Linked DNA regions of Homo sapiens. The protein of the gene in region 3 interacts with the protein of the main gene of each other region in a pairwise test. Each region holds a gene or a part of one and is shown on either strand. Other genes may lie near its edges. The genes, in order: GALNT6, PEX13 and PEX1.

Evidence for each region.
Region 1: the proteins of PEX1 (region 3) and GALNT6 interact in binary tests that used the Homo sapiens proteins (3 or more experiments, as listed by UniProt).
Region 2: the proteins of PEX1 (region 3) and PEX13 come close enough for resonance energy transfer, tested with the Homo sapiens proteins (one large-scale study listed by BioGRID).

What each region holds. Positions count from the first base shown.
Region 1 is NC_000012.12:51,388,522-51,392,941, reverse strand, and holds the start of GALNT6 (polypeptide N-acetylgalactosaminyltransferase 6), read left to right. Parts: upstream 1-1,535; 5' UTR 1,536-1,655; intron 1,656-1,746; exon of another isoform or gene 1,747-1,860; intron 1,861-2,004; 5' UTR 2,005-2,092; intron 2,093-4,420. UniProt on the Homo sapiens protein: Catalyzes the initial reaction in O-linked oligosaccharide biosynthesis, the transfer of an N-acetyl-D-galactosamine residue to a serine or threonine residue on the protein receptor. May participate in synthesis of oncofetal fibronectin.
Region 2 is NC_000002.12:61,041,639-61,045,286, reverse strand, and holds part of PEX13 (peroxisome biogenesis factor 13), read right to left. Parts: intron 1-3,648. UniProt on the Homo sapiens protein: Component of the PEX13-PEX14 docking complex, a translocon channel that specifically mediates the import of peroxisomal cargo proteins bound to PEX5 receptor.
Region 3 is NC_000007.14:92,486,421-92,490,564, forward strand, and holds the end of PEX1 (peroxisomal ATPase PEX1), read right to left. Parts: intron 3,492-4,144; coding exon 3,294-3,491; intron 3,004-3,293; coding exon 2,873-3,003; intron 1,122-2,872; coding exon 1,037-1,121; 3' UTR 605-1,036; downstream 1-604. UniProt on the Homo sapiens protein: Component of the PEX1-PEX6 AAA ATPase complex, a protein dislocase complex that mediates the ATP-dependent extraction of the PEX5 receptor from peroxisomal membranes, an essential step for PEX5 recycling.

The DNA.
Region 1 (4,420 bases), on a different chromosome or scaffold from region 3:
ACTAGTGGTAGAAGTTTCTACCATAGAAAGTTTTCAAATTATTGGCTATTTGGAGTCATGCGCGCTCCTTCTCTGTTGCTAAGGCCCCAAAAGATTGCAGCACACGAGGCAGCGCCGGAGAGGACCACTGAGCAGCACGGGCCCTGGCGGGGTAATTCCGAACACCGGCTTAGGAGGCGGGTTTACCAGGATTCTCATTCCAGCCCTGCCACTAATTGTTCAGGGTTCTCAAGGTCGAGCATGCACAAAATCACCCGGAGGGCTTTTAAAACACAAGTCGCCGGGCCCAACCCGAGTTTCGGAATATTTAGGTCTGCGGTGGGGCCCATTTCTTTTCTTTTCTTTTCTTTTTTTCTTTTTTTTTTTTTTTGATACGGAATCTCGCTCTGTCGCCAGGCTGGAGTGCAGTGGCGTGATCTCGGCTCACTGCAACCTCCCCCTCCCGAGTTCAAGCGATTCTCCGGCCTCAGCCTCCCGAGTAGCTGGGATTACAGACGCCCGCCACTACGCCCAGCTAATTTCTTGTATTTTTAGTAGAGACGGGGTTTCACCATGTTGGCCAGGCTGGTCTCGAATTCCTAACCTTGTGATCCGCCCGCCTCGGCCTCCCAAAGTACTGGGATTACAGGCATGAACCACCGCGCCCGGCCAAAATTTCTAATAAGTTCTCAGGTGATTCTGACTGGCGCTGCTGGTGGGGGATCCCACTTTGAGAAACACCCTCTGCTGTGTGAGCAGCTGCCTCCCCGGTACATTCGGAATAATCATAGTAGGTTTAAAGTTTGCTGGGGCTGGGATTCACCTGATACCTGGCACTTGGAGCCCTTGACACAGTTCATGGCACACGGAATACGAGCTCTTGTTGGATGGAGCACAAATGAGAAGCAAACCTGGGGCAGGACCCCGGGGCCCATGGCCGCCCCGCCGCGTTTCCCCCTCCGGGGCAGGCCTCCGGGCTCCGAGCGCTCCAGGCTGGCGCGCAGCACATTCCGGTTCCATGCACCCGCCGCCCGCGGCTCTGCTAATGCCTGTCCTCTTTGGGGTGACTAGGACCCTCCAATCTTTTTCCGCGCTGAAAGCCTGGCCGCAAAGACCGCACCCCCGGGGCGGGCTGAGACGCAGAGAAGCCGGGGCGCCCCTCTGCCGGTCCGCCGGGAGTTCCCGGGCCCGCAGCAGGCTGAGGACACGGCGGGACCCGCTGCACCTGGCCAGGGAGGGGCGGGGCGGGCGCGTTAGTGCAGCTGGGGGAGGTCCCGCCCCGGTCCCACCCTCCCGGCCGTCCGGTGGGGAAACCCGGGAGCCACCCCGCGGCGCGGCTGCGGCTTTGCCTCGGCGCGACAGGTAAGCGGCAGAAGGAGCCCGCGACCCTCTCCCCGGGAGGGCCCCCCTGAGCTCCCCGACTGCTCGGACTTCCCTTCGGCGGATCTCGCTTCTGCCGAGTCCTCGCTCTCACCTCCTCCTCCGCCAGCCTTCGCCTCTTCCTCTTCCTCCTCACTACCCCCGACAGTAAAATGAAGGGGCTGGGCCAGGCTGGTCCCTCCTGCCTTCGCTCTCTGCTGGTCGCGGTGGCCTGTAGCTCCTCCCTCGGTAGGACCCCCCTCCACCTTGGCGCTTACGAGATGAATGAGGAGCCCAGACCTCTGGAACTTGGAGGGGTGAGAGGGGGACAAGCCAGAGCCAGGGCTCCACACCCTCTTCCCCTCACCCACCCATGCCCTGCATTCCTTCTGTGCCCCGTCTCCCCAGATCGGGCCACCCCATGTGCTCTGGTACGGCAACTCTTGCAGAGAGGTTTCCTCCTGCCCTGCCACGTTGCGCCTGAGCAGAAGGGGACAGCAAGGAGAAGCCTCGCTGGTGGAGGTCGGTCTGAGCCCTGCTTGGTTGAATTCCCTCCAGAGCCTGGGGGCTTTTGGGGGTGGGAAGGGATCTGCCTCCTGCTGTGGGGAAATGGAATCTGCTGGGTGTTCATGACTGTGACTGTCACCGACTTCCCTATTTCCTCAGTTGTTCAGATTCCCAGGCTGACAAAAAGGAGAAACAGCTTTTACTTGCATCCAGGGCCAATCATCGCAGACCCAGACGTCTGCAGAGGGTAGGATGGGGCTCTTCTGTGTATGGGGGTGGAGGGTGGTCAGTTTGCCCACAAAGCTTACAGCAGACCCCTTCTAGCAGCCGACAACCCATTGCAGCACTCTCAGAAAGGATGTTAACTCTGTGCTCTGAGCTCGCCCCCAGGCCCACACACACAATTTACAGGCACTGGGTGAGGTTCATAGTTCTGGACACACCAAAGAGCCTCGAGGACTTTTGCGCCTTCTACCAGAGATGTGTGTGCACCACACAGGCCCTATTCTCCGCTCCAGACAGATGAGCTGTCTCCCTTCCCATCAAAGGAAAGGTTAAGAAGGATGAGACAGGGAAATTCATGTGATGATGAAAACCAGGTCAGGTGAGGGGTTTGAAATATGCTTTGGTTCCGGCCACATGTGGTGGCTCATGCCTGTAATCCCAGCACTTTGGGAGGCTGAGGCTGGTGCATCACCTGAGATCAGGAGTTCGAGACCAGCCTGGCCAACATGGCAAAACCCCATCTCCACAAAAAATACAAAAAGTTAGCCGGGCATGGTGGCAGGCGCCTGTAATTCCAGCTACTTGGGAGGCTGAGGCAGGAGAATTGTTTGAACCTGGGAAGCAGAGGTTGCAGTGAGCTGAGATCGCACCATTGCATTCCAGCCTGGGCAATAAGAGCAAAACTCTGTCTCAAAAAAAAAAAAAAAAAAAAAAAGAAAGAAAGAAAGAAAGAAATATGCTTTGATTCCAATTGCCTAGCAGGAGCCAGTAGCATTGCAGGCATTTCCCTAGCTCCAGTTCCTTAATGGTGCCATGCACTTTAGGAACCCAGAGGTAATCAGAGAAAGTTGCTTCCAGGGGCACCAGGGCAGAGAACAGGACAAGACCCTCAAAAGAAAGAGGGAAGTGTGCAGGAGACTGGGCTGCTCAAGATGACCTCACCTCAGTAATGCTGCCCACAGTCCTACAGTGGGTGGAACAGCTGACTCCTACCTGTAGCAGCATGGAAGAACTCAGGGCAGAGAAGGGGAGGCCCTGATGTGTGTCAGGTGCCCTGTGAGGTCAGAAACATATTTGCCCAAGTTCAGCTGGAAGAAGTGGGGACAGGAAATATGAGCATGAACTTAGTCCATGCAACCATTGCCTCGAACAGACCTCAGGACCAGGAGGGGCAGCTAACCCTAGGGCTGAGGGCCTCTCAGTGCAGGGAGGCAGTGAGTATCATGAAGGCAGGCAGCTGACTCAGCCCTGTCACTAACTTCGATATATAATCTTAGCCAAAACACATAAACACTCCCTGGGTGGGGAGCAAATGAGAAGGTGTATATGAAGTGTTTTGGCAAAGCTCCAAGCACCAGTCAAATGCAAGACAATGTGATGTCATAGTTAAGAGAGTGGGCTTTGGAGATACATAGGCCTGAATGCAAATTCTGCCTCTGCCACATTTCTAGCTGTGTGACCTTGGTCAAGTTACTTGACCTCCCTGTGCTTCAGTTTCCTTCTGTGTAAAACAGAGAAGATAACTGTAACTTGATTTGATATGGTAAGCAGTAATATTTAAAATGGTGATGGTATTCTTCTTAACATTTTCTGGCTCCCACGGATGTGTTCCGACATCTCAGCCCTGGAAGGGATGCTGAAGACCAGGTTGGGTGTGTCCATGCCGTAGCTTGGGTGAACTCAGCTCTTTACACAGTCCTCTGCCCCTTTCTGGGAAAGCCCAAATGTTCATTCTCATTTGATAGGAACGAGAGTGAGGATTTGAATAAGCAGGAGGTTAAGTGCAGGGCAGTGCCTGTCTCTGTGTCGAGCTCAATGTTGTAATTGTGCTGTGTAAAAGGCCTGTGTGGTGAACAAGGGTGAGCTCACTCCAGGGAGGAGAAGGACTGTTAGAAGACTTTTGTGGCACCTGACAGCCCTGTGGGGTCAGCTTATTCTCTCGTACCCTGAACAACTTGGTCCTAAGGCCTAGGTAGAGATTTGAAGGAAGAAAGCAACCCAGTCCTCAACTCTGCACGTAATAGAGAATGAAGAACAGACTAGCAAAATAGCATTGCCATACATCTCAAGGCAGAGAGATGCGACAGGGATTGGAAGGCCAGGTAGATTGGTCAGGAAGAACATTCTGGAGACAGAAGTTTGGGGACCAAGACTCAAGGATTGGGAAGGAGAAGGAAATAGGATCTAGGTGGTCTACCGTCTAGGCCTGTTGGTTCTCCCTTCTCCATGATAGTTAGTGGGGAAATCCCACGTAAGGAAAGCACGGGTAGTAGAGAAACTTGGGAACAAATAACACCTAGAAACTGAGGCAGCAAGATGCACCTTAGTCTAGGAAGCCTTCTTGAAAGAG
Region 2 (3,648 bases), on a different chromosome or scaffold from region 3:
TTTGGGGGAAGGATATTTCACTTAATTGGAAATCAATTATAAATATTCACTTGCTAATTCTAATTTGTAATAAAATTTGAGGTACTGCATTTTTGAAAATGCCTTTTCACACAGATAGGTAATGTCAAATCCTAATATGAGTCTATGAGTATGTGGTTTTAATTGAGCATATTTATTAGTTGGGAGAGTAATAGGCCAGAATATAATTCTGTTAAATTCTTCTCTTGATATTTGCCTTTTACCATGTTATTACATTGCAGATTAATCACTTCCAAATGAAGATTAAGTGGAAGTTCCTCAATTGCATAGTTAAATGGATTTTGAAATATGGAAATTTCCTTTGTGCTTGCATGGAGGTCCAAAAAATGCTCTGGCATTGTATTAATAGCTTAAGCTTGGAAAATGTATCTGCTGCCAACTTGCGTGGGAATGGAGATACTGCTTGTGTTAACTTCTGACAGTCTGAGAGGTCTATAAAGCAGTGTGACATTACTTGTGAGTCAAACTGTATTAGGTGTTGTCAAAACTTTACTCCAGCATAAGTTTTGCATATAAGCACTGTTCTGCTTTGTGGTTTCCGTTTGAATTACTTAAGAATATAGGTCAGGCGTGGTGGTTCACACCTGTAATCTCAGCACTTTGGGAGGCCGAGGCGGGTGGATCTCCTGAGGTCGGGAGTTTGAGACCAGCCTGACCAACATGGAGAAACTCCATTACTACTAAAAATACAAAATTAGCCGGGCATGGTGGCGCATGCCTATAATCCCAGTACTTTGAGAGGCTGAGACAGGGGAAATTGCATGAGTCCAGCAGTTCAAGACCAACCTGGGCAACATAGGGAAACCTTGTTTCTACAAAAAAATAAACAAAATTAGGCAGATGTGGTGGCACGCGCCTATAGTCTCAGCTTGAATCGCTTGAACCTGGGAGGCAGAGGTTGCAGTGAGCCGAGACTGCACTACGCACTCCAGCCTGGGCAACTGAGTGAGGCCCTGTCTCAAAAAGAAAACAACAACAAAGAATATAACTAAGTCTGGGCTGGACATGGTGGTTCATGCCTGTAATCTCACTCAGCACTTTGGGACGCTAAGGCAGGATTGCTTGAGGCCAGGAGTTCAAGACCAGCCTGAGCAACACAGTGGAATCTCGTCTCCACAATAAATAAATAAATTGGCCAGGTGTGGTGGTGTGTACTTCTAGTACTAGCTACTTGGGAAGCTGAGGTGGGAGAATCATGTGAGCCCAAGAGTGTGAGGTTGCAGTGAGCTATGATCACGCTACTGCACTCCAGCCTGGCTGACAAAGCAAGACCCTGTCTCCAAAAAGAACTCAGAATTTAACTAAGTCTGCAGTAAAAGGTGATTTCCAAAGCTGAATGGGTTTAATAACAATAGCTGAAAAGGAGTTCTGTTCAGAAAAATTTCATTCTTGGCCTCAATCTCAAAAAAAATAAAATAAAACTTAAACCTTGTTCTGCCATTGAATTGCCATGCGGTAGGGCAAGTCGGGATCTTCAGCTTCTGTATCTGACAAAAATTCACAAAACTGACAATGATTATGTCACAAGAGTGAATAAACTTTACCTTGACACTACTAGTTCAATAACACATGATAAATTCAAATATTTTCTGCAATGTGGCTGCTGATAATACAATGAATAACCATAAACAAAAAAACTGTATTTTCAAAACCTTTGTAACTTTTGTCCAACTAGGCCTTTTCCTGCTCCACCTAGAATTTTCACCATTATCAGGTGCAACACATCTTAGCAGATTCAGGTTGTACGGAATCAGTGTTTTCACCTTCTTTGAAAATGTTCTTGTCTGTAGTTGAACCATGACTATTCATAGAGGCTAATTCTTCAGTCATTTCCAATTCACCATTGATTTCTCAAATAAACAACTAAGCAGTACTGTCTTTTTTTTGAAAATTTGTTTTTTTTTTTTTTTTTTTTAGTAGAGACAGGGTTTCACCACGTTAGCCAGGATGGTCTCCATCTCCTGACCTCATGATCCGCCCGCCTCGGCCTACCAAAGTGCCAGGATTACAGGCATGAGCCACCGAACCCAGCCTGTCTTTGTTTTATGCTACTTTAACAGAATACTACAGACTGGGTAATTTGTAAACAATGGAAGTTTATTTGCTCACAGTTCTGGGGGCTAGGAAATCCGAGATCAAGGGGCATTTAGTAAGGGCCTTCTTGTTGTGTCATAACATGGCAGGAGGCATCACATGGCAAAAGAGTGCATGCGAGAGAGTAAGAGGGCCAAACTAGCTTGTATAACAAACTCACTCTCGAGATAATGAACTCACTCCCATGATGACAACATTTAGCCAACAGATTTAGCAAGTATTAATATCCATTGGGTCATGATGAGCCAAGGAAAAACATTCAAATCATTTGTCTTATTTTAAGTTGGCCATGTTGTTCAAAATGCCATCAACTCTTCAAGGAACTGTTCTCACTGAGAAGCTAATAATCTTAAACAAGTTTACTTTCTCTGGACATATTTTTTTTGGCTGTTGCAATGACCATGAGTAAACAGGTTTCCTTGCTTGGGTAACATATGAACCTCTCAGGAACTTATTTTGGTTGCAGCCTCATTTTATTTTATTTTTATTTTGATGCGGAAATTCTGCTGTGATGAGAATTCCATTTTAAATTTTCTAATTTTTTTGACTGTTGATTTTCTGTGATGAGTGCTCAATCTGGTAATGCTGATATGTAGTATAGCCATTTAACATAGCTATAGTGTCATTGTATAATAAATACAGTTTTTTTTACTATCTAATTCAATAACGAAATAATTCATACTATACTGTGCCTTGAAAATATGACACTCAAAGTACACTTTTTTCTTGTGTGTCATATATGAATTCATAATTTCAAAAAAAACCCACTGTAGTATAACAATGTATATATTACTCATCATGCTATCAAGTTATAACTAAGTTACTGAAATTTGTAGTGGGCAGAGCAAAAGTGAAGCCATCGGAATTTCACATATAGTCTCTGTGCAAACTATTCAATTCCACTGTTACAGTGGAAAAGCAGCCATAACAATATGTATGGAAATAAGTGTGGCTGTGCTCCAATACAACTTTATTAATGAAATTTGAATTCTATATAATTTTCACATCACAGATTATTTCAATTTTTAAAACATTCTTTTAATTTCCCAGCAACTGAAAAGTATAAAAACCATTTTTAGCTTGTGAGCTGTACAAAAATAGGAGCAGGCCAGATTTGGCCCACAAGCCACGGTTTGCCAACCCCTGCTCTAAGAGCTAAAGTAATAGGACCTCAATTTTGCTTCTCCTCAAAAATCTCTTTGTATCATTACCGATTTCCTCTCCTTTTGACTCAGATAAAAAACCGTCCTTCCTTTTTACCTGCCAGGTTCCGTAAGATCACACCCTCTCTTACTTCCTATAGTAGCTTCTTCATCATTTAACTCCTATCTTTCCCTTATTTATAACTGCTCCTTCTCTACTGACTCCTTTCTTTTAGCCTAAAAACATTCTCAGATCTCCTCACTTCTGAAAAGACAAAGCAAAACAAAAAACTGACAATCTCCCACAACAACTTGATCACTCAATTTGGCCATTCTTTTCCTCCCTCCTTCCATTCACTGCTAATCTTTTCTT
Region 3 (4,144 bases):
ACTCACTTTATGGTGAAAAGAGGGCAGGTATGTCAGCTCAGTGATTTCATCAAAGAACTGAGAAACAAAGTGCAATGCAGGGTGACGTGTCTCAGTTTAATACTAGTGATCCACTAAGTCTTTGTTTCTATCCCCTGGGATTCTGAGCTTTGCTGGTTTAGAACCTTGAACCTCCTGGGAGCAAGTGATCCTCCTACCTCAGCCTCCCAAGTAGCTGGGACTAGAGGCATACCATCATGCATGGCTAATTTTTTTTTTAAGAGATGGGGTCTCACTATGTTGCCCAGGCTTACTTGTATATTTTAATTAATGTTCTCCTTTTTGCTGTTCCCTTACCCCATTACTATATAGTTAAGATATTAGATACGCAGATTGTATTGATGGTGGCTAACTTTATAATTTAGTTCATATATGAGAGAATATCAAGATAAAATCATAACTGGAACTAGGAGAGGAATGGATGTCATTTAAATATCTTGGGCTTGGAGCTGGATGTAGTATAGTAGAGGGATGTGATTTCATTTCTGGTTGAGCGGATAATTAAATGTATTTGAATTATGTGTAAATTTCACATTTTTTGATATACAAAGAACAGATAATTGTATCAGTAGGTAATAGGATATTTTATTTCAAAACAGTGAAGAAGCTGCTAAGCATAAAATTTGTCAAATGCTACAAAGGTGATGAATATACAACTGGGAATTCCAAGAAATTTAAATTTAATTACATTCTTTATTATCTTTTCCTCAAAAGAAATAAATTAGTTCCACCATTTGGCTAATATTATTTCATTAAAGACTGAATTTAGATTTTAGGAAATAAAATATGGAATCTGTTATAATGTCCCAATTTATACTACAGTATTAATCTCAATCCTGATCATTACATAATTATAGCATTTACCAATCTGTGATTTTATAAATTAACCAAATTTGTTAAATTAAGAAGAAATTCATAGACACCATTTTTTTCCTGTTACAACATATGGAAAAGCCATCAAAAAACTTAACAGAACCAAATCAAAAAGAAGTATATTTTATGCTAAAGTTACTTTCTGTCCAGGTCGAAACATTGTTCCACTTTGATTTTTTCTCCTCTTTGGATTTTGAAAGCTTTCATATCTGAAAAAAGAAAGAGATAATTTAATATGTATAAATACTACCATTACAAAACAAAAGATAATGGATTGTTGGCAAACACAATTATATTTTAAGAAATGAACGGGAAATAACAAACTAGAAAAAAAAATTCCAGTCACAGAAATTAAAAAGAATTCTTACAAATAAAGTTGCACTCCAATAGAAAACGGAGCAAAGGGGATGAAGAGACAAGTTAGAAAAGATAAAATACAAATGACAATGAATAATATGAAAAATTATAACTTCTACACTTTAATCAAAGAAATGTAAATTATTGATATCATTTTTCTAAAATCAAAAGGGCCAAGTTTAGAAAAATACTGCAACACACAATGTTAGTGATGGTGCAGTATATCTGGCAGGCAATTTGGCAATACATTTCAAAAGCCTTAAAAAATGTGAGCTCCCTGTTATACAATTCCACCTCTATCCTAGTGAAACAATTAGATATGTGCATATATTCAGCTGCAAGAATGTTCATTACCACATTGCCTGGGAGCAATTTAAATGTCTAAAAATTGGATATTGTGGCATAGCTACACTATAAAATGACATTTAAAAACAATAAAGTAGTTAACATTTAAAATGTAAAACAATTTTCAGGATGTATGTGGATAAAGGGGGACTGCTATATAGCAATATGTACAGACTGTTCTTACCATAATAGGAAAACATATATAAGCATATAAACAAATATGCTTTGGGAGGTGGTGGGCTTAACAGAAATTTGTTTCCTTATTTTTCCTTACCTCTGTTTTCTGATTCTTCTTTAATAAATACATAGCACTAACGTATGTACACATACATACATACTTCAAAGTACTGCAAAATTAGATAACAAAAGGTAGCAGCTTCTAAAGACCAGGAATAAACATCTCTTAAATTGAATCACACTGAATCATTGACCTAGAATGGTTCCCAGTCCATGGGTCTCAGATGCATAGGTGGCCATAAACTCAATTGCAAGGATCCTTTAAATCCAATGTATAACAAATGTGGTCCACAAATGAATAAATCTGAATGTATTTAAATGTTCTTGAGGTCAATAAAATATTAATATAAATTATTTTGAAGGCAAAACAGGTATTTTTATAACAAAATTTTATAAACTATACATTAGAATCACTTTCAACTTTTAATTTTCCTTCTTATTTCTTCGAAGTTACTAAATTTTTTTTTTTTTTTTTTGAGACACAGTCTCGCTCTGTGGCCCAGGCTGGATGGAGTGCAGTGGTGCAATCTCGGCTCACTGCAACCTCCACCTCCTGGGTTCAAGCAATTCTCCTGTCTCAGCCTCCCAAGTAGCTGGGACTACAGGCACATGCCACCACACCTGGCTAATTTTTGTATTTTTAGTAGAGATGGGGTTTCCCCGTGTTGGTTAGGCTTGCCTCGAACTCCTGACCTCAGGTGATCCACCTGCCTTGGCCTCCCAAAGAGCTGGGATTACAGGCATGAGCCACAGCACCCAGCCCAAAGTTACTAAAATTAAATGAGTCCATTATGAATAATTCAAATATAATCAAATGAACTGGTTAATGAAAACTCAATTTTGACTTCTGTACTTCTGACATTTTGGGGTTTTTTAATGCATAGCTACGACACATATTTTTTGAATTAGCTTTTAAATATTCAAAATATTTTTATTTTAAACACGAACTTTAAAGGTTTAAGTGTAATACTATGTCACTTGTAATAGTAGCTGTACTTCCAAAACAGAATCTGTTACTTACAGCTCAGCAAAATTCTTCCAGTCATCTTCACTAATGGATGGTCTTGTGTGACCAAGTGCAGTCATTAAATGTGACTGACTAATAGCCAGTCTGGTTTTGATTGGTCCTGGTTGGTTCATGGATTCGTCCTCCTTAAGTAAAAAAAGAAATTGACGAAGAGTTAAATTAAGGATGTAAAAAAAAATGTGGTAGTCCAGTTGTTACTTCTTATTGTCAGTTTTTTCAAGAGACCATACGTTCTCTTCCTTATAAGATAATGAAACATTGAAAGCAAGGAAGCACATAACCATGACTGAGTTAATGTGTTCTGGTCCCTTGTTTATAAATATAGCTCGTTTATAAGTCAAAGAAATATATATCAAAAGGGTGAAACAATTTTTAAGAAGTTTTAACAATTATAATGAGGGGGAAAAAGCCATACTCCACTTTGGCTCCGGTATCTGCCTTTGATAATACTGATATCTGCCCTCAGTTGATCTCTTTGTTCTTGTGTAAGTTCTTGGCAACCCTCTTGTGAAGCTGTCCTTAACACTGGAGGCTGTGAAAACAACTGGTCTTTCCCAGGAACTCCAGGCAAATCCTGAGTCATGGAGCTTGGTGCAGAGAGACATTGTGAGCTCTGCATGGTAAATTGTAGTAATGAAAGATGGAAGGAAGAGGGGGAGAGAAAAAACTATGTGTTTACCAAATATAAAAATTAAACATTTTAAGCAATAAAACATTAACATAGATAAGTATACATGTTAATTAACTGAAATTAAGCAAGCTGAAAAGTTGTTCATCTTTTATAAAGGTTCACTGATACCTGTGTTATAGAACCACCATCAAGTGAAAATTGCCATAACACAGGGTAGGTTTTTTTAACTTTGTTGCTTAAATCCAACACACTAATGCCCAAGGACAGGTTTCTTCATTTTCAGAAAGTAAAGTTATACTAAGTTTCTGGGACATTTCTAAATAGAATAAATTAAAAACAGAATTAAAGACTAAAATTAAACCACCACCTTACTGTTCTTGGGAATAAAAATGAATTGCTTTTATATTTTTAAAGTCTGAGTTAGGCTAGGCATAGTGGCTCACACCTGTAATCCTAGCACTTTGGGAGGTCAAGGCACGCAGATAGCTTGAGCCCAGGAGTTTGAGACCAGCCTGGGCAATATGGTGAAACCTCGTCTCTACAAAACATACAAAAATTAGCTGGGCATGGTGGCATGTGCCTGTAGTCCCAGCTACTCAGGAGGCTGAGGTGGAAGAATCACCTAAGCCCAGGAG